3 linked regions of the Homo sapiens genome follow. The protein of the gene in region 1 purifies or fractionates together with the protein of each later gene. This does not show direct contact. Each region holds a gene or a part of one and is shown in the gene's direction. Other genes may lie near its edges.

Region 1 (7,028 bases):
AAAGGTCTGTCTTAGAAACTTGGAACCAAACTAAAGGATCACATCTTAAAGCTCTTCTGTCTCTGATTCTTCCTTACCTTAGACTCAGGTAAAGCATTGTTAGTAAGGTCATAGGACAGTGGTTTCTTAACTTTTATATAACATGAATTACCAAAATTCCACAGACAGTCCATTTTCTTCAAGCCCTAGATCAATCCAGATCTCCAGAGGATAAGAGGCCTGCATATTTTTTAGAGTTCTACAAGTGATTCTTTCTTCACAGTAGTGCCTGTTAAAGAGAAAAATTACTACACTACACTTTTCTTTTTTGTAATTTCATAGTAGATTCATTAAAATCTTGTCATGGAAAAGACACTAGGATTTGCAAATTACTATTCCAGACCAGCTTTTGAAAACCCTGAAAATGGAAAATTCAGGAGATTCCCCCCTTAAAAATGAAGAAATCAAGTAAGTCTAAGCAAAATATCTCCTACTAACTTAAGGATCTTTAAGCAGCAACATCTATCATGTTACGACTTCTAAAAGTTAGAAACTGCCATTTAATCAGCACTATAACCTCATGAGGTGAGTATTCCTGTTTTACAGGTGAGGAGACAAATTTAGGTAGGTTAAATCATTTTGCCAAGGTCACCTAGCCATAAAGTATTGCAGCTGAGATTTGAACCCAAGTCTGTCTGATTCCAAAGCCTGTAGTCATGTTACCACTCTTGTAACCATTATGTTATACTGTCTTAGCTCTTTTTTATAGAGTGGAATCTGACTTGTAATTCTTCATCTAGTATTGCGTGGCCCACACCACTTGAGTACATTTCAATAAAGTTTTATTGAGCGCCTGTGATGCTGCTGCAAGGCATAGTTTATATATATTGCTAATGTGTCCTTATATTTTTCTTTATAGTTTGTATGTAGTAAGTGGATTTTGGGTATATACAAAATGCTTGTTTGCCAAGTGTAAAAATATGACATAGCTAATACAAGAAAATGTAGTCAAAGAGTTTATGTTCTTTTTTTTTTTTTTTGAGATGGAGTCTCGCTCTACTGTCGCCCAGGCTGGAGTGCAGTGGCACCATCTTGGCTCACTGCAAGCTCTGCCTCCCAGGTTCACGGCATTCTCCTGCCTCAGCCTCCCCAGTAGCTGGGACTACAGGTGCCTGCCACCACGCCCAGCTAATTTTTTTGTATTTTTAGTAGAAATGGGGTTTCACCGTGTTAGCCAGGATGGTCTTGATCTCCTGACCTCGTGATCTGCACACCTTGGCCTCCCAAAGTGCTGGGATTACAGGCGTGAACCACCGCGCCCGGCCGACAGTGATTTTTCATAAAGGTGTTCCCTTTGTTCTGGGATTTTTAGCCTTCATACATTTTTACTGTTAGGCATTTCCTTTTTCAGATGATGGTGATAATAGTTAAAAAAATTTTATTGATAGTATTAAGGGAGTCCACTACCTTGTGTCAGATTCCCTGTTTCTTTTTGAAGCCCTTGAAATGAAGTTTAGGGACCACTGATCTAGAATTCTCTTTATGCTCCTCCACTACCCATTAACCCCACTCTGTAGTCTGCCTTTTCGCTTTCTTCTCTCCTCCCTTCTAAACACTTCGTAGAACACTATGTTTTCTGTTCATGATTGACCTTCAAATTGCCAAATCCTTTGGCCTTATAAACCGTATGTACTTAACCAACACTCTGTTGTTAACAAATCCTTCAAAACTGTTTTCTTTTGCTTCCGCTCTGTTTTTCCTGTCATCCACTTATCACTTTTCTTCATATGTTTTCTTTCTTTTGTTCCCAGTTGTTATTATGTGGGGTTCTGGTTCTATTTTATGTTCTCACTGTATATTCAGAATCAGATTTTTAGCTACCATGTACCATCTTAATAATACCTAGCATTTATTTACTCTTTCCTAATTGTTATTTCAGTGCTTCAGTATTTCAGTATTCATTTAATTCATTCAGTATTCATTTAATTCTCAAAACAACTCAGTGAGGTTGATACAGGTATAATTGGTGTCTTTTTTTTATTTTTTCTGACACTGGCATATCGAGGCCCAAAGGTTAAGTAATCTATGCAACTAGGAGGCAGTAGAACTGGGATTTAAACTTAGACTGCCTGTAGAGGCCATGTTCTTAACCACTACTAGATTTTTGGCGTCCAGATGTCCCTTGTATTTCTAACTTCCGTTTAGTTTTTCTACCTCAAATTCAATACATCCATTCAGTTAATCTCAAGTGCCTGCCTCTTTCCCTTGACAAAACACACTTGCTCATTCTTTATTCCTTGCCACATTAAAGTTAACACTATCCTCCCCATCGCTAGTACTATAGAGGTCATTGAACCTTCCCCCTGCGTATGGCCTGTGAGTTTTATTGATTCCAGCATGATTATTTGGTGATATTTGAGTGCGATTTTGTGCTAGATCCTGGGTGTATAATGATGTATGAGACACAGACTTTGTCCTCAGGGAGCTTATACTCTAGAAATAATTTTTTTTTTTTTCAAGAGAGCGTCCTACTCTGTTGCCGAGGCTGGAGTGCAGTGGTGCCAACATGGCTTACTGTAGCCTCAGGCTCCCGAGCTCAACTGATCCTCCTGCTGCAGCCTCCCGAGTAGGTGGGACTACAGACATGGACTATCACACCAAGCTGTTTTTATTTTTAGTTCAGGTGGGTTCTCAGTTTGTTGCCCAGGCTGGTCTTGAACTCCTGGGCTCAAATGATTCTCCCACCTCATCCTCCCAAAGTCCAAGTATTGGGATTACAGGCATGAGCCATCATGCCTGGCCAATAAAATGTTACAACAAATTAGCAGAATGCTGAGAGAATAAATGGTGATAGGAAACCTGTATATGTAATGGAGTTTCAGATAATACCTAATATTTATTGAGCACTTTCTTTTTTTTTTTTTAGAGACAGTTTTCGCTCTGTCACTCAGGCTGGAGTACAGTGGTGCTATCTCAACTCACTGCAACCTCCACTTCCTGGGTTCAGGCAGTTCTCATGCCTCAGTCTTCTGAGTAGCTGGAATTACAAGCACCCACCAACACGCCCAGCTAATTTTTGTATTTTTTGTAGAGATGGAGTTTCACCATGTTGGCCAGGCTGGTCTTGAACTCCTGACCTCAAGTAATCCGCCTGCCTTGGCCTCCCAAAGTGCTAGGATTACAGGCATGAGCCACTGCGCCTGACCTATTGAACACTTTCTATATGGTTGACATTATTTTTGGTTCTTCAGTACATTTAATTCTCATAAAGTTCCTAAATGTATACTTCTAGATCTGAAGTATCGGGAATACCTAATTGTACAAAGAACATGCCAGTTGGAAGCTACAGCATTTAGCAGAAGTTCTAAAGTAGGAAAGAGCTTCATTTAAACTGTGAACTGGCCAGGTGTGGTGTCTCACGCTTGTAATCCCAGCGCTTTGGGAGGTTGAAATGGGAGGATCACTTGAGCCCAGGAGTTGGAGACCAGCCTGGGCAACAGTGAGACCCTGTATCTAAAAAAGAAAAAAAAAAAAAAGAAAATGAGTGAACTGGACTATAATGATTCAAAAGGCTAAGTAATATAGGTAACATCAGTATCCTAAAGTATATTCTAATTCACTGATGCTTGATTTTTTGGGGGATTGTATAGTCCCCTTTGCATATATTATGAATGCTGTGGAGCCTCTTCTAGTTTTTTTTCAAAAAAGGTAAGAAAATTTTGCTTAGAATGCCCATGAAGCCTGACTGCTGATCTAAGGAAGTAACTGATTCAATCTGTGCTTTTTGTTTCTGTACTAATACTGCCTTAGTTCAGAGTACTCCTCCTGCCAGAATTCTTTGAGATAATCTCCTGACAGGTTTGTTTCATCCATTGCCCCTCTTAACAGTTTATCCTTTTTATCATAAAGACAATTGTATTATATATAACCCTCCTTTAATTTTTTTATGAAAAGTTTCAAACATGTAAGAAAATAATATAGTATTGTGACCTCCCACAAACGTGTCACTCATCTTAAACAGCAACGACTCATGATCAGTCTTGTTTTACCTGTACTTCTATCCATTCATTGTCCATTCCAAATTATTATTTTCTATTATTTTATTTATTTTTAAGAGACAGGGTCTCACTATGTTGCACAGGCTGGAATGCAGTGGTGCGATCGTAGCTCACTGCAGCCTCAAAACTCTTGGGTTCAAATAGTCCTCCCACTTCAGCCTCCCAAATAGCTTGGACTATAGGCACGTGCTACCACGCCTGGCTAATTTTTTTTTTAGTAGAGACAGGGTCTTTCTATGTTGTCTAGGCTGGTCTTGAGATCATGGCCTCAAGTAGTCCTCCTACCTTGGCATCTCAGGAGTGCTGGGATTAAAGGCATGAGCCACTATGCCTGGCATGCCTCAGCCTCCAGAGTAGCTGGGATTATAGGTGTGCCACCATGCCCGACTAATTTTTTGAATTTTAGTAGGGATGGGGTTTCACCATATTGGCCAGTCTGGTCTCAAACTCCCGACCTCAGGTGATCTGCCCACCCTGGCCTCCCAAAATGCTGGGATTACAGGTGTGAGCCACTATGCCCTGCCTAAATTTTCTTTTATTCTATTAGTGCTTGAAGTTACTGAGTTCTGAAGTTGTTGAGCTTCTCTCTGCTTTGCTATTGATTTGAGCAAGTTCGGAGCACCATGGCCCTCATCTTCGCATTTTACGCTTTTTTTGCAAGTTTATCAACAAGCTCAATTAAACCACCAACTGTTTTCTGAAACTGGCCAGTTTTGTCCGCAAAGTTCTTGCACTCTTCTTTGAGCTCTGTGGTCTGCTGGGTAACCTCTGAGTCCAACACCCACAGCTTGTTCAACTCATCAAAGTGCAGTCCCTCTTCAGCCAGGATGTCCTTTACCATAGTTGTTTCGCATCCAAGTTCCCTAGAGAAGCTCTGCTCTGAAGGAGTGACGGTGACAGTCAGGAGGAGGTGTGTCATAGGAACAAGGGTCGAGAAAGAATAAAGTTCGCTTGCTTGTCACAGGTATTGTTCATTCAACACACATTTCTTTGAGTGCCCACTACATGCCAACACTGCTAGATGCTGGGGGTACAGAGATGAATGCAACATGGTGCCCACCCTGCTGGCCCCGTGGCAGCAGCTTACTATGGCCCAGGCTGATGTAGACTGGCAGCTTCTCCCCATCACTGGTAGCTGGTATGCAGGCAGCCTGCCTCGGCTGTTGCCATGACTACAGAGACTCTTTACCCATGACCTGAAATATATTTTTATTAAGGTTTTTTTTTTTTAACAAAATGGTTTTAAATTTATTTAAATTAATTTCCTTTTTTTTTTTTTTTAAATTGAGGCAGGGTTTCATTTTGTTGCCCAGGCTGGAGTGCAGTGGGCGCAATCCCGGCTCACTGTAACCTCCGCCTCCCAGGTTCAAGCAATTCTCCTGCCTCAGCCCCTTGAGTAGCTGGGATTACAGGCATGCACCACCATGCCCAGCTAATTATTTTGTATTTTTAGTAGATACGGGGTTTCACCATGTTGGCCAGGCTGGTCTTGAACTCCTGACCTCAAGTGATCACCCGCCTTGGCCTCCCAAAGTGCTGGGATTTCAGGTGTGAGCCACCGTGCGCAGCCTAAATAACTGTGTATGCTCGCTTTTGTGTGTATACACTCACTGCCCCTCATAAGACAATTTAGGTTCACAGCAAAATTTAGCAGAAAGTACAAGTAGTCTCCTACCCCAAAGTTTTGCCTTTTCCAGAATACATTCATATACCTTCCCATGGTATCCTTGGGGGAAATTTGTTCCAGGGGTTCTCCTCCAGGATACAAAATCCTCAGATGCTCAAGTCCCTCAATACAATGAGTTTGTAACTTATGCACATCTTCCTGTATATTTTAAATCTCTAGATTACTTTTTTTTTTTTTTTGAGACGGAGTCTCGCTGCGTCGCCCAGGGTGGAGTGCAGTGGCGCGATCTCGGCTCACTGCAAGCTCTGCCTCCTGGGTTCACGCCATTCTCCTGCCTCAGCCTCCCTAGTAGGTGGGACTACAGGCACCCGCCACCACGCCCGGCTAATTTTTTGTATTTTTAGTAGAGACGGGGTTTCACCTTGTTAGCCAGGATGGTCTCGATCTCCTGACCTTGTGATTTGCCTGCCTTGGCCTCCCAAAGTGCTGGGATTACAGGCGTGAGCCACTGCGCCCGGCCTAGATTACTTATATAATCTAAATGCTATGTAAATAGTTGTTACACTTTTTAAAACTTTTTATTTGAGACAGGGTCTCAGTCTGTCACCCAGGCTGGAGTGCAGTAAAACAATCACTGCTCACTGCAGCCTTGATCTCTGGGTTCAGGTGATCCTCCCACCTCAGCCTCCTGAGTAGCTAGGACTACAGGCACCCGCCACCACACCTGGCTAATTTTTGTATTTTTTCTAGAGACAGAGTTTTGCTAAGTTGCTGAGGCTGGTTTTGAGCTTCTGGGCTCAAGCTATCTGCCATCCTTGGCCTCCCAAAGTGCTAGGATTACAGGTGTCAGCTACTGCACCTGGCTAGTTGCTATAATTTTTAAAAATTATTTTTTGGCTGGGCGCAGTGGCTCATGACTGTAATCCCAGCACTTTGGGAGGCCAAAGCGGGTGGATCACAAGGTCAGGAGTTTGAGACCAGCCTGGCCAATATGGTGAAACGCCGTTTCTACTAAAAATATAAAAGTTAGCCAGGTGTGCTGGCACGTGCCTGTAATCCCAGCTACTTGGGAAGCTGAGGGCAGGAGAATCGCTTTAACCCGGGAGGCGGAGGTTGTAGTGAGTCGAGATCGCGCCACTGCACTCTAGCCTGGGCGACAGAGCGAGACTCTGTCTCAAAATATATATATATATATTTTTATTATTTTTCTGGAATATTTTTGCCTTGCCATTGTTTGAATCTGTGAATGGGGAACCCTTGGATACAGAGGGTTGCCTTAGTTTGAATCGTATAATATGTAGCCTTTTCACTTAGTAGCAGTGTATTTAAGGCTTCTCCTTGTCTTTTCTATGGGTTGATTATTT
Region 2 (7,028 bases), on another chromosome or scaffold:
AGTAGATGCCTGAAATCACAGATAGTACCAAACCCTATATCTACTATGTTTTTTCCTATATATACACATACCTATGATAAAGTTTGACTTATAAATTAAGCATAGTAAGAAATTAACAATAATAATAAAATAGAACAATTACAACAGTATACTGTTATGTGAATAAAAGTTATGTGAATGTCAACATTCTGTCTGTCTCTCTCAAAATATCTTGTACTGCACTATAACTGAAACTGTGGAAAGGGAAACCAGAGATAAGCGGGGACTGCTGTATGTTTTACAAAGTACTATCAAGTTTCACTACTTTAAAATACATCAAGTGGGATGTAATATGAAAATATTTTAGAATATGCTGAAAATTGATCACTCCTCAAAAGAATCATGATGAGCTTATTAGAATCTGTTTTGTGATTTGTAATACTAGGAGGCCTTACATCGGGAACAAATGTTGGAACAGAAGTTAGCCACGCTTCAGCGGCTACTAGCCATCACCCAAGAGGCTTCAGATACCAGTTGGCAGGTATTCCAGTTGTTTTATATTTAAGAAACATTTAAACATAGTTTAATATTCCATACATGTTAAATAAACTAAAATGTAGCAAACAAAGACAAAGTTATTTCCTAACTAATGAACAAGTTGTTGAAGATTTAGCATTTTACAGTGGATGCTGGTCAGTTTTACGCTTTTATATCTTTTGTTGTCAGTAGCAACCTTTTTTTATATACATGTGACTTTATAATTACTCGGGTTTTACTTACATTTAATTTTTCTTCAATAGGCTTTAATAGATGAAGATAGACTCTTATCACGGTTAGAAGTTATGGGAAACCAATTACAGGCATGCTCCAAAGTAGGTATTAACCTCAAATGTGTAAAATGAAATGCATAGTTTTTTATGTAACATCATTTCTTTGACTATCATTTTGAGTATATGCTAAAAACTTCATACATTTCCACAATTCTTTTAAATCTTTTGTGCTGAGAAACGTCAGACATCCATGTAAATAAAAATAATTACATAATGAATACCCATGTACAAGTCTGTCTTTTTTCTATTGCAGTTAATATTTCTTGAAAAAACTGGGTCATTTGTCCTCTAGAATTTCCCTCAGTCTGCATTGTTATTTAAACATTTTTTAGCTCCCCCTCCCACTCCATAAAGTAGTAGTTCCATCTAGAGATTTGATGTGATTTAGGTTCAGTTTTTCTTTTTGTCAACAACACTTTATGGATGGTATTGTGTTCTTCCACCAAGGGACAACATAATGTCTAGTTGTCTTTCTTTTTGAGATTTTTATCAATCATTGATGATCCCAGGCTAGATCCATTATTTCATTACGGTTACAAATAAGGCTGGGCGCAGTGGCTCACACCTATAATCCCAGCACTTTGGGAGGATGAGGCGGGCGAATCACCTGAGCTCGAGAGTTCAAGACCAGTCCAACCGACATGGAGAAATCCCATCACTACTAAAAATACAAAATTAGCCGGGCATGGTGGCACATGCCTGTAATCCCAGCTACTCAGAAGGCTGAGACAGGAGAATCCCTTGAACCCAGGAGGCAGAGGTTGCAGTGAGCCAAGATCGTGCCATTGCAATGTAGCCTGGGCAACAAGAGTGAAACTCTGTCTCAACAACAACAACAACAACAAAAAAGTTACAAAAATAATGATGTAATTCTGTTATTCCTTCACTTATTTAGCTGGGTTACTTCTATAAAGAGAAGTTTCCTTCCATACACAGTGGCTCATGCCTGTAATCCTAGCACTTTGGGAGGCCAAGGCAGGCGGATTGCTTGAGGTCAGGAGTTCAAAACCAGCGTGGCCAACATGGCGAAACCCCGTCTCTACTAAAAGTACAAAAATTAGCTGGACATGGTGGCATGTACCTGTAATCCAAGCTACTCAAGAGGCTGAGACAGAATTGCTTAAACCCGGTGGGGGTGGAGGTTGCAGTGAGCCAAGATCGCACCTCTGAACTCCAGCCTGGGCGACAGAGCGAGACTGTCTCAAAAAAAAAAAAAAAAAAAGCGGGGGCAGTTTGAGACCAGTATGGGCAACATGGCAAAACCCAGTATCTACCAAAAATTAAAGATTTGCTTAGCATAGTGGTACATAACCTGTAGTCCTAGCTACTCGGGAGGCTTAGGTGGAAGGATCGCTTGAGCCCAGGAGTTTGTGATTACAGTGAGTTATGATCGCAGAACTGCGCTCCAGCCTTGGTGACAAAGAGAGACCCTGTCTCTAAAAAAACGAAAAAAGGAAAAACAATGGCCATTGTTTTTTGTAACTTTGGCATCAAAAACCAAATACCACATGTTCTCATTTATAAGTGGAAGCTAAGCTATAGGTATGTAAAGGCATAAAGAGTGCTATAATGGACATTGGAGACTCAGAAGTTGGGAAAGTGAGAGGGGAGTGAGGGATGAAAAACTCCCTATTGAATACAATATACACTACTCAGGTAATGAGTGCACTAAAACCCCAGACATCACCACTACATAATTCATCCATGTAACCAAAAACCACTTGTATCTCTAAAGGTATTGGAATAAAAAAATTTAAATAACCCTGAGGTATGTTTTCTACGGGGAAAGCAAGATAAGTGATTTTCTCCCCTTATTTATTAGATTTCAGAATAATGAATTGGTGGTTTTTCATCTACCAAAGACTGGCCATGAAGTGTTTTCTCACTCCACTTAGATTTAAACATATTTGATGTATTTAAATCTGGTGCAGTTGTTTTTCTTGTTTTAGAGACAGGGTCTTGCTATGTTGCCCAGGCTGGTCTTGAACTCCTGGGCTCACGCAATCCTCCCATCTCGGCCTCCCAAAGTGCCACGGCCAGCCTATTTTTCTTATTGATGCTCAAATTATCCCATCTTTGGTCTGTGTAAATGTCTTCAGAGTGATAGCTTCATGCTGTCATTTCAGACAAGATGTTTCAGGCTCATTTTGTACTTTTCCTGCCCCAGACATGAAGTCTGCTTTTCCCCCATGGTACTCTTATTCCTTTTGTTTTAACCATTGTTTCAGAATGCTTGGTGCCTTTGAAGGTAATTGATTATTTTTGCCTACAAATGTGAATATGGTGGCTTGCAGAAAATATGACAAATATAAAAGTAACTAATTTTGTATATTTTAGGGAAATTCTCAATTGCCTATAACTTTTTTTTTCTATAGGAAGTGGAAATTAGTAAGTTTGTGAAGGCATAATTTACTTATGCAACTTGTAAATACATCTTTAGTTAATACAGGGCCAGAATCATTTATGTTTGGAGGTACCTTAATATATAATTTAAAGTATATCATAATGTGTTAATTTTTTTCAAACAATAAATGCTTTTAAAAAATAACTTGTCTATAATTATAAATATCTTTTATTGTAGAATCAAACAGAAGATAGTTTACGAAAGGAACTTATAGCATTACAAGAGGATAAACATAACTATGAGACAACAGCCAAAGAGTCCCTGAGGCGGGTTCTTCAGGAGAAAATTGAAGTGGTTAGAAAACTTTCAGAAGTTGAGGTATTTCAATCAAAAAAAAAATACTAAATAGTATTATGAGTGTTCAAAAAAATCTCAAGCATTCCAGGATACTTTAAACTTGGGTATTATTATATAGTTAGGAAATACTTTCTGTCTGTCAGGTGGGAAGGAACAGTTACGCTGCTTTCATTGACAGCAATTCTCCATGTGAGTTTTGGTACTTACTCCCTAGTCAATGGCTGAGGAAATAAAAGCGTAACCAGGGAATCTTATTGTTTGCATTCTGCTTAGGATTCACCCTCCATACAGCAGACCATGATATGTGCTGGGGAATTGATTTCCTGTCACTTGGTTTTGCTTTGCTTCTATTTGAGGGGGGTCAGTGTAAGGCCAAGAGTCTACACTACTTGTTCTTTTTTAATTCACTCTGCAGAGAGGAAAACTAGCTGTGTCATATATTTAGGAAGTTCAAAGGTGAAATCATCTCCAAGGTCCTTTCTAGGTCTTGGAGGAGCAATCAAAATGCAATTTTTATTGCTTTGGGGAAAAAAATTCTAATTCATAATATAGATCTTTTCTTTGAACCACTGCAAAATTACCACATAAATAATGTATTACTAGAATTAGTTAAAATGCTCATCAGAAACTAAATGGTAAACATACCTTTCCTTACTACAGGTATAGTTTGTATTGCTACCTCATCCCATAGTGCCTGATTCACTGTTGTGTGATTAATTTGATATATAAAGAAAGTTACTAAGTGTCTTTTAATTTTTTATTAAATTGATTGCTGGATATTATTAAACTTGCTTTCAAGGATTGATAGGCTTAAAATATTTTCACAGCTAAAAGTCATACCCATTGGCCTTTCAAAAATGTAATTATATAAAGGCAGCATCCTTTTCCTGCCCCTGCTCTCCCTCCACTTTTATTTTTTTGTTGTTTTTGTTAATTCTTAGTTATGTTTTCTGTTTTAGTGTGAATTGAAATTCTTATGTTATTTGACTCAGCTTTATTTAAAGTCCAGGGCAGATGTTGATTTAGAATAGTCCATAGAATTATACTTTTTATAAATTTCATTTAGAAGGAATTCTAAATAACAAATATACACTTATTCTAATTAAATTGCCTGTAAACTTGAATCGCAGCGAAGTCTGAGTAATACTGAAGATGAATGTACCCATCTGAAAGAAATGAATGAAAGGACTCAGGAAGAATTAAGAGAATTAGCCAACAAATATAATGGAGCAGTTAATGAGATTAAAGATTTATCTGATAAATTAAAGGTATGTATTTACTCTGCCTGAAAGTATGTTAAGCTAATAATCCCTAACACACTAGATAGCTTAAGATTTTAGGTATTGCTTTAGCTGGGCGTGGGGTGGCGGGCGCCTGTAATCCCAGCTTCTCAGGAGGCTGAGGTAGGAGAATTGCTTGAACCCAGGAGACGGAGGTTGCAGCGAGCTGAGATCACGTCACTGCACTCCAGCCTGGGCGACAGAGCGATACTCCATCTCAAAGGAAAAACAAACAAACAAACAAACAAAAAACAGTTTGGGCCAGGCGCAGTGGCTCACGCCTGTAATCCCAGCACTTTGGGAGGCCGAGGCGGGCAGATCATGAGGTCAAGAGATTGAGACCATCCTGGCCAACATGGTGAAACCCCGTCTCTACTAAAAATACAAAAATTAGCTGGGCGTGGTGACACATGCCTGTAGTCCCAGCTCCTTGGGAGTCTAAGGCAGAAGAATCACTTGAACCCAGGAGGCAGAGGTTGCAGTGAGCCAAGATTGCACCACTGCACTCCAGCCTGGCGACAGAGCAAGACTTCGTCTCACAAAAAAAAAAAAAAAAAAAAAATTCAGTTTGAAAACCACTGGTATAGATAGATATTTTGAATTGATTTGCATAGTCTCCTTGAATGTGTTAAATTATGCTGAAAGTATGAAAGCAGGATGTAGGTGGTACTACATATTAAATAAGATTTCTATAAAAAAAGATTTTAGGTATTGCTGAATAGTTATTGATGTAAAAATTTGGTAACAGTTGAAATTTATAGTGAAAATAAGGTGTCTGTATTCCATTTAGCCCAACCTCCATTACTATAGATAATTGAAAGCCTGTAAATGCTGACATAGTTCCTCTGGATGAATATGTAGTCAGTGCTTCACAATAGACATTTCTAAAATATATAACAGGAAGTAGATGAGAATCAGCAAAACCCATGATATTCAGATGTTTTAAAACCTAAAACTGCTTATCATTAGGCCATCTAAAAGGCAGGGCCCAGCTATTTAGTGCTGTGCTGGAACAAGCCCAGAGAGAATCTGGGAATGATCTCCCTTTTAGCTTTCAGGGATGCTGTTAACTCTGCTTTAGCTGCCATTCCCTCTATCTATGAGACATCTAGGATAAGGACAGATCAGATCATAGGGTAATGATAGGGTAATGTCTAGTTGGTCCTTTAGAATCTTATAACTGAGGAAAAAAAAAATCTTATAACTGTTTGTGAAGGTCCATCTTGGTTTAATTCAAACTATGGATTGAGTGCCTAGAAGATATGTGTTTGTTAGAGAAGACCAGAGCATACCTCCGTTGGTTAACCTATGATAGTTTTCAAAGTTGGTCTTGTTAAAAGGAGATTGTCATTGTCCATTTTTGTTGCTATAAAGGAATAGCTGAGCCTGGGTAATTTATAAAGATAAGAGGTTTATTTGGCTCACAGTTCTGCAGGCTGAAGCTTCAGGCTGCTTCCACTGATGGCAGAAAGCAAAGTGGAGCTGGTACGTGTTCCATGGTGAGAGAGGGTCTGGGAGAGGTGCCAGGCTCTTTTTAAAAACCAGCTTTCATAGGACTAATAGAGTGAGAATTCACTCATTACCATGAGGACAGCACCAAGCCATTCATGAGGGATCTGCTCCCATAACCCAAACACCTCTCATTAGACCCCATCTCCAACACTGAGGATCAAATTTCAACATTGAGGCTTGGGGGACGAACATCCAAACTATAGGCAGAGAGGTCTTTTTGAATAGTGATTGTACTGTCATCTCGTTACTAAATAATTTTGTTTAAAATTTCAGAATGTTAACATGATAGAACTTCAAAATTGAAATGATAGTAATTTTAGGGAAAAATCTTACTTCCCTCTTTAAAAATACGATTTTTTTTTCCACATTGACCCTTTACCTCTGTGTGTACTGAGCCTACTTGCTTCCTCCAAGTTTCTCTCTCCTGGGTGTTATGGAGGAATAACCCAATGCAGATAATTTTTGACATCAAGCCTTTGTCTTTATCATCTTTACTGGTTTAGAAATGTCAGGTTAGCCGGGCGCAGTGGCTCATGCCTGTAATCCCAGCACTTTGGGAGGCCAAGGTGGGCTGATCATCTGAGGTCAGGCGTTCGAGACCAGCCTGACCAACATGGAGAAACCCCGTCTCTTCTAAAAATACAAAATTAGCTGGGTATGGTGGCGCATGCCTGTAATCCCAGCTACTTGGGAGGCTGAGGCAGGAGAATCACTCGAACCCGGGAG
Region 3 (7,028 bases), on another chromosome or scaffold:
CTAAAAAAAATTATGCTTTGAGCTACCTGCTGCTTATAATTCCTTTCCCTGAATAGGTAGGTTTTTATAGTTAACAAATTTTAAATGTAGTTGATTTTGATAGTAGTATTTCATTATGCAATCTGGAGAGGAGAGAGTGTTTTTCATAAAGTGGATATTAATTACAACTTTAAAAAGCCAATCAGTAAACATTCATTGATCTTGTAATTAACTGTGACACCTAATTAAAATGGTTGCTAGGCTGTTATGTCTGGAAAATATTTGAAATTTTTTTATTCTTTAAAATCTGTCTTCATATACATTCCCATTTCTTTTCTATGGCTGGCTTGAAAATTTTAAAAAATATCTTGGATGTTCCATGTGTTGGGTAGGGTCAGAGAACTTACTTTTTTTCGTTTTCCACCTGATGAGATTGAGATTATTTCTATACAGGTAAAAAGCAAACAGGACCCTGGGAATCCAGTGTGGCTTAGGAATAGGACACTAGACTGGGGATCAGAAATTCTATTTTTGGTACTAGTTTGGCTCTTTCCTTGCTTTGTGGTGCTGTCATTCAGCTTTGTTGGTTTGTTTGTTTGTTTGTGATGGAATCTTGCTCTGTCGCCCAGGCTGGAGTGCAATGGTGCGATCTCGGCTCACTGCATCCTCCACCTTCCGGGCTCAAGCAGTTCTCCTGCCTCAGCCTCCAGAGTAGCTGGGATTACAGGCGTGCGCCACCACACCCAGCTAGTTTTTGCATTTTTAGTACAGACAGGGTTTCACCATGTTGGTCAGGCTGGTCTCGATCTCCTGACCTCGTGATCCACCCGCCTTGGCCTCCCAAAGTGCTGGGATTACAGGCGTGAGCCACTCAGCTTTTTAGATTTGGAATTCCTGGGTCTATTTTCTCATTGGTAAAGTGGGAATAACACTTGTCCTCTTGCCCAAATGACAGTATAAGGTAGTTAGTTATTGCTCAGATTCAGAAAGCTACCAACAGTTTGAATTAATTAAAATTATTACGTAACAGTTTGATTTTCCTCTAGGGTACTCTAGAGATCCATTTGGATAGAATTAGGTTAGAGAGAAGGCAAATAGGTGAAGCAATTTTAAAGAAGAAAACAGTGACTTATACATATTAGATAGGGAGAGTTTATTTTACAGCTGTTACATTTGAGGCAATGTGGTATTGATGCAGAAATAGATAGTCATTTTAAGAGGACAGGTTTCATGATGGTTCTAATTGCATTTCTCTAATGGCTAATGATGTTGAACATCTTTTCATGTTTCTTATTTGTCCATATCTTTTTGGTTCACTAGTAAAGTCTTTTATTCATTTTTATTTGGGTTATTTTCTTATTGTTTTGAGAGACTTTTTTGTATTCTAGATACAAGTCCTTAGTTGGATAAGTGATTTGAAATATTTTCTCCCAGCCTGTAGCTTGTCTTTTCAAACTCTCTAAACAGTGTCTTTCCCAGAGCAAAAGTTTGTGATTTTGATGAGGTCCAGTTTATCAAATTTTTCTTTTATGAATCATGCTTTTAGTATCATGTTTACAAAAACCTTTGCCTAACCCCAGGTCACAAAGATTTTCTCTTATTTTTTTCCTGAAAGTGTTATTGTTTTTAATTTTATATTTAGACTTATGGTCCATTTTGAGTTAATTTTTGTATTAAGTGTAGGAATTATGTTGGGATTAAACTTTTGGCATATAGATGTCCAGTTCTTCCAACACCATTTGTTGAAAAAAGCCAACCTTTCTCCTTTGACTTGCCTTTGCACCTTTTTCAAAAATCCATTGGCCATTTTTGTATGGCCCTGTCTCTAAACCTTTTCTGTTTCTATCAGCTCTATGCCACCTTGATTGAAGTAGCTTTATAGTAAGTCTTAAACTTTGGTAGTGTGAAAAAAACTGAAAACAAATAGTTTCTTCAACTTTTTTTGTTTTCATAGTTGTTTTGTTGTTATCTAGTTTCTTTGCATTTCCAAGCTAATTTTAGAATTAGCTTGTCAATTTCTCTAAAAAAATCTTGCTGGGACTTTGACTGGAAATTGCACTGTTTGTACAACAGTTACAGAAAACTTGACATTTCGGCTGGGTGCAGTGGCTCACACCTGTAATCCCAGCACTTTGGGAAGTCAAGGCAGGAGGATCACTTGAGGTCAGGAGTTCGAGTCCATCCTGGCCAACATGACGAAACCCCATCTCTACTAAAAATACAAAAATTAGCTGGGCGTGGTGGCGCACGCTTGTAATCTCAGCTACTCTGGAGGCTGAGGCAAGAGAATCGCTTGAACCCAGGAGGCGGAGGTTCCAGTGAGCCAAGATCGTACCGCTGCACTCCAGCAGCCTGGGCGACAGACTAAGACTCTGTCTCAAAAAAAAGAAAAAGAAAACTTCCCTACTATGTTGAGTCTTCCAGTCCATGAACACAGTATGTTTCTCCATTCTTTTAGATCCTCTTTAGTTTCTTTCATTAGCATTTTGTAGTTATCAGCAAACAAATTTTGCATATGTTTTAATTTGTGCCCAGGAATCTCAGGGTTTGTTTTTTGTGTTTTTTTGTTGTTGTTGTTTTGTTTTGTTTTGCTATTGTAAATGTGTGTTTTAAAAAAAAAAGTTTTGGTTTCCATTTGTTTGTTGCCAGTATATAGAAAAACAGTTGATTCTTATGCTTGTATCCTGTGACATTGCTAAAATCATGTAGTAGTTTTAGGAGTTCTTTTTTGGATTCTTTGGGGTTTTCTACATAGACAACAATGTTGGTTGTGAAAAGGGGCCGTTTTATTTCTTCTTTTCCAGCCTGTATGGTTTTTCCCCCCTTCCTAGCCTTATTACACCAATGTATTGAACAGGACTGGTGACTGCAGACATCCTTCCCTTGTTCCTAATTTTATTGGGAAAGCAGTCAGTCATTCATTATGAAGTATGACGTTTGCTGTAAGTTTTCTGAAAATGCCCTTTCTCAGTTTAAAAAAATCCTCTTCTAGCTTGCAGAAAATTTTTATTATGAAAGTATGCGGAATTTTTTAATAATATGCCAGTTGGTATGCATAAGTGATTTTCTTCTTCAGTGGATTACATTGGAGACAGCCTTGAATCTGGGATAAACTCCCATTGGTCAGGGTATATTACTCTCATTATGAGTTGCTGAATTTGAGTTACTAATATTTCCTTAAGGATTTTTTATTTATGTTAATGAAGGATATTAGTCTGTGGTTTTCTTGTATTCTCTTTGGTTTTGGTATCAGTAATACTGACATCAGTTTATGAGATTAAAATTACAAGTATTTCCTTTTCTATTATTTTTTTAAGAGATTGTATAATAATTGGTGTTATTTCTTCTTTAAATGTGTGATAGAATTTGTCCTTGAAGCCATCCAGGTCTGGAGATTTTTTGCAGAAGATTTCTAATTACAAATTCAGTTTCTTAAAATAATTATAATAGGATTATTCATAGTTGTCTGTTTCATCTTGTGTGACTTTATGTAGTTTGTGTTTTTTGAGGAATTAGTCCATTTCATTTAAATTATCCAATTCATGTGTATGGAATTTATTATTGTGTTCACTTATCCTTTTAAGGAATTAGAGGTCTGTAGTGATGTCTCATCTTTCCTGATATCCCTTCTTTCCATTAGTAATTTATGTCTGCTGACTTTTTTTCTTGGTTAATTTTTCAGGAGGTTTTTCAATTTTTATTTTTTTCCAAGGACTGGCTTTTTATTTCATTAGGTTTTCTCTGTTGCTTTCTTGTTCTCAATTTCGTTGATTTCTACTCTTTATTATTTCTTTCTATTTACTTTAGGTTTATTTTGCTCTTCTTCTCCAGGTTCCTAAAGGTTGAGGCTTACATAATTGATTTGAGATCTTTCTAATTTTCTAATATAAACATTTAATGCTATAAATTTGCTTCAAAGTAGAGTTTTACATACATGCCAAAATTTTTGATATTTTGTATTTTCATGTTTATTTAGATCAAAGTATCTTCTAATTTCCAGAAACTTCCTTTTTGACTTATTATATAGAAGTACATTGTTTAACTTCCAGATGTTTGGAGATTTTTCTTGTTATCTCTTAATTACTTACTTTAGTTTAATTTCATTATAATCAGAGAGCATAATTTGTACTGGCTAGGCGTGGTGGCTCACGCCTGTAATACCAGCACTTTGGGAGGCCTAGGCGGGCAGATCACCTGAGGTCAGGCGTTCAGGACCAGCCTGGCCAACGTGGTGAAACCGCATCTCTACTAAAAATACAAAAATTAGCCGGACATGGTGGCATGAGCCTGTAATCCCAGCCACTCGGGAGGCTGAGGCAGGAGAACCGCTTGAACCCAGGAGGCAGAGGTTGCAGTGAGCCGAGAATGTGCCATCGCACTCCAGCCTGGGCAACAAGAGTGAAACTCCGTCTCAAAAAAAAAAAAAAAAAAGCATAATTTGTATGATTACAGTTCTCTTAAATTTGTTAAGGTTTGTTTTGTGATCCAGGATGTGATCTATCCTCATGAATATCTTGAGCACTTAAAAAGAATGTGTACTCTGCTGTTGTTGGTTGTAGCATTTCATAAATATCAATTCAAGCCAGTTAGTGGATGCTGTTCATTTTGCCTATATTGCTGATTTTTGTGTACAAAGTCTGCCAGTTACTGAGAAAGGAATGTTTAATTTTTCAGCAGTAAGGGTGGATATGCCTATATATCCCTTCAGTTGTTTGAGTTAGTGCATTTGTATTTTGAAGCTCTTTAATTATAGTTGTATATACATTTAGGATGCTTATGTCTTCTTGGTGATTGGGCATTTTATCATCATGTAATGTTCCTCTGTCCCTGGTAATTTTCTTTTCTCTGAAGTTTACTTTGTCTGATATTTATTTATTTTTTGAGGCAAGTCTCACTTTGTTGCCCAGGCTAAAGTTTAGTGGCGTGATTGTGGCTCACTGCAGCCTCAACCTCCTGGGCTTAGGTGATCCTCCTACCTCCACCTCCCAGCTAGCTGCGACTGCAGGTGTGTACCACCACGCCCGGTTAATTTTTTGTATTTTTAGTAGAGGTGGGGTTTGGCCATGTTTCCCAGGCTGTTCTGGAACCCCTGGCTTCATGATCTGCCAGCCTTGGCCTCCCAAAGTGCTGGGATTATATGGGCGTGGGCCACTGCGCCTGACCTTGTCTGATATTATATAGCCACTCTAGCTCTTTTCTTAAATATAACACCTTTATTGAGATATGTAATTCACATACCATACTATTCACCTATTTAAAGTGTACACTTTTAGGGTTTTCAGTATATTCAGAGTTGTGTAACCATCAACAAAATTGATTTTAGAACATTTTTCCCGCGCAAAAAGAAACCGTATGTTCATTAACAGTCACTTCCCATTCCTCCTTCCTTTTCCTAATCCCTCAGTCCTAGACATCCACTAATCTACTTTCAGCCTCTGTGGATTTGCCTCTTTTGGACACTATATAAATGGCGTGATACATTGTCTTTGTGACTGACTTCTTTCACTGAGCATAATTTTTTCAGTTTTCATCCATGTTGTAGCCTGTTTCAGGGCATCATTCCCCCCTACTTTTTTTTTTTTGCCAGATATTCCACTGTATGAACACATCATATTTACTCATTTATCAGTTGAATAATATTGCTGTGAACATTCATGTACAGTTTTTTGCATTGACATACTTTCATTTTCCTGGTATGTACCTAGGAGTGGAATTGTTGGATCACATGTTTAACCTTTTGAAGAACTGTCAGACTTTTCCAAAGTGGCTATACCATTTCACATTCTTTATATCCTAGCCAACACTTACTATCTTTTCTATTATAGCCATCCTAGTAGGTATATCTCATTGTGGTTTTGAATTGCATTTCAGTGATGGCTAGTTATGTTGAGCATGTTTTCATGTTCTTATTAGCCCTCTGGTTTTCTTTTGACTAATATTTGTACAGTATATCCTCTTTTCCATCCTTTTAACTTTTTTTTTGGAGGCAGGGTCACACTTTGTCACCCAGGCAGGAGTGCAGTGGCACAGCCAGGGTTGACTGCGCCCTCACCGTTCCGAGTAGCTGGGACTACAGGCATGTGCCACCACACCCAGCTAATTTTTAAATTTTTTGTAGAGACAGGGTTTTGCCATGTTGCCCAGGCTGGTCTTGAATTCCTGGGCTCAAGCAATCCTCCGATTTTGGCCTCTTAAGGTGCTGGGATTACAGGTGTGAGCCACTATGCCCGGCCTGTCCTTTTACTTTTAACCTACCCATATCATATTTAAAGTGAATTTTATATAAACAATGCATAGTTGGGTCCTCTTTTAAAATTCTGATCATCTGTCTTAATCTTATCTAAATATAAATGTCGAGGACATTTATATTTAGTGAAATTATTAACATGTTTGGATTTAGTTCTGCCATCTTATCATTTGTTTTCTTTTTGTTCCTTTGATATTCCTTTGTTTTGCCTTTTCTCTGTCTTTTGGGTTATTGAACACTTTTTAATTCATTTCAATTAATCTATTGTAGTTTTGACTATTATCTCTGTGCAGTTATTTTAGGGATTTATTAGGAATTACAATATATGTAAATTTTTAAGTCTACTTAAAATTGATATTTTTACAACTTCAAGTGAAATGTAGAAATCTGATCAATGTATAGGCCTTTTTAGCCTCCTCCCTTTTTCTTGTAGTTATATATTTGCCTGCATAAATTAAAAATCTCATTAGATAAATGTTATAATTCTTGTTTTTAAACATTAGACATTTAAAAGAACTAAGAGGAAAATAATTACCCAGATATTTACAATTTCAGTTGGTCTTCCTTTGTTCCTGATGTTCTAAGTTTCCTTCTGATAACACTTTGCTTCTAACTGAAGAGTATTCTTTATAATAAGTCTACTGGAAATAAGTTCTTCTTTCTCTTCAGCTGAGAATGACTTTTATTTCACCTTCATATATGAAACATATTTTTGCTGGATATAGAATTTTGGGTTGATAGGTCTGTTCTTTCAGCATTTTGAAAGTGTTGTTCTACTTTTTACTGGCCTTCATTTCTGTTG

Evidence for each region.
Region 2: the proteins of STRN3 (region 1) and SLMAP purify together in Homo sapiens (affinity purification with mass spectrometry; 5 studies listed by BioGRID and IntAct, with this or other methods). This does not show direct contact.
Region 3: the proteins of STRN3 (region 1) and FGFR1OP2 purify together in Homo sapiens (affinity purification with mass spectrometry; 5 studies listed by BioGRID and IntAct, with this or other methods). This does not show direct contact.

Annotation. Positions count from the first base shown.
Region 1 is NC_000014.9:31,016,374-31,023,401, reverse strand, and holds part of STRN3 (striatin-3), read left to right. Parts: intron 1-7,028. UniProt on the Homo sapiens protein: Calmodulin-binding scaffolding protein which is the center of the striatin-interacting phosphatase and kinase (STRIPAK) complexes.
Region 2 is NC_000003.12:57,857,309-57,864,336, forward strand, and holds part of SLMAP (sarcolemmal membrane-associated protein), read left to right. Parts: intron 1-424; coding exon 425-520; intron 521-779; coding exon 780-851; intron 852-3,390; coding exon 3,391-3,531; intron 3,532-4,640; coding exon 4,641-4,778; intron 4,779-7,028. UniProt on the Homo sapiens protein: Associates with the striatin-interacting phosphatase and kinase (STRIPAK) core complex, forming the extended (SIKE1:SLMAP)STRIPAK complex.
Region 3 is NC_000012.12:26,941,470-26,948,497, forward strand, and holds part of FGFR1OP2 (FGFR1 oncogene partner 2), read left to right. Parts: intron 1-7,028. UniProt on the Homo sapiens protein: May be involved in wound healing pathway.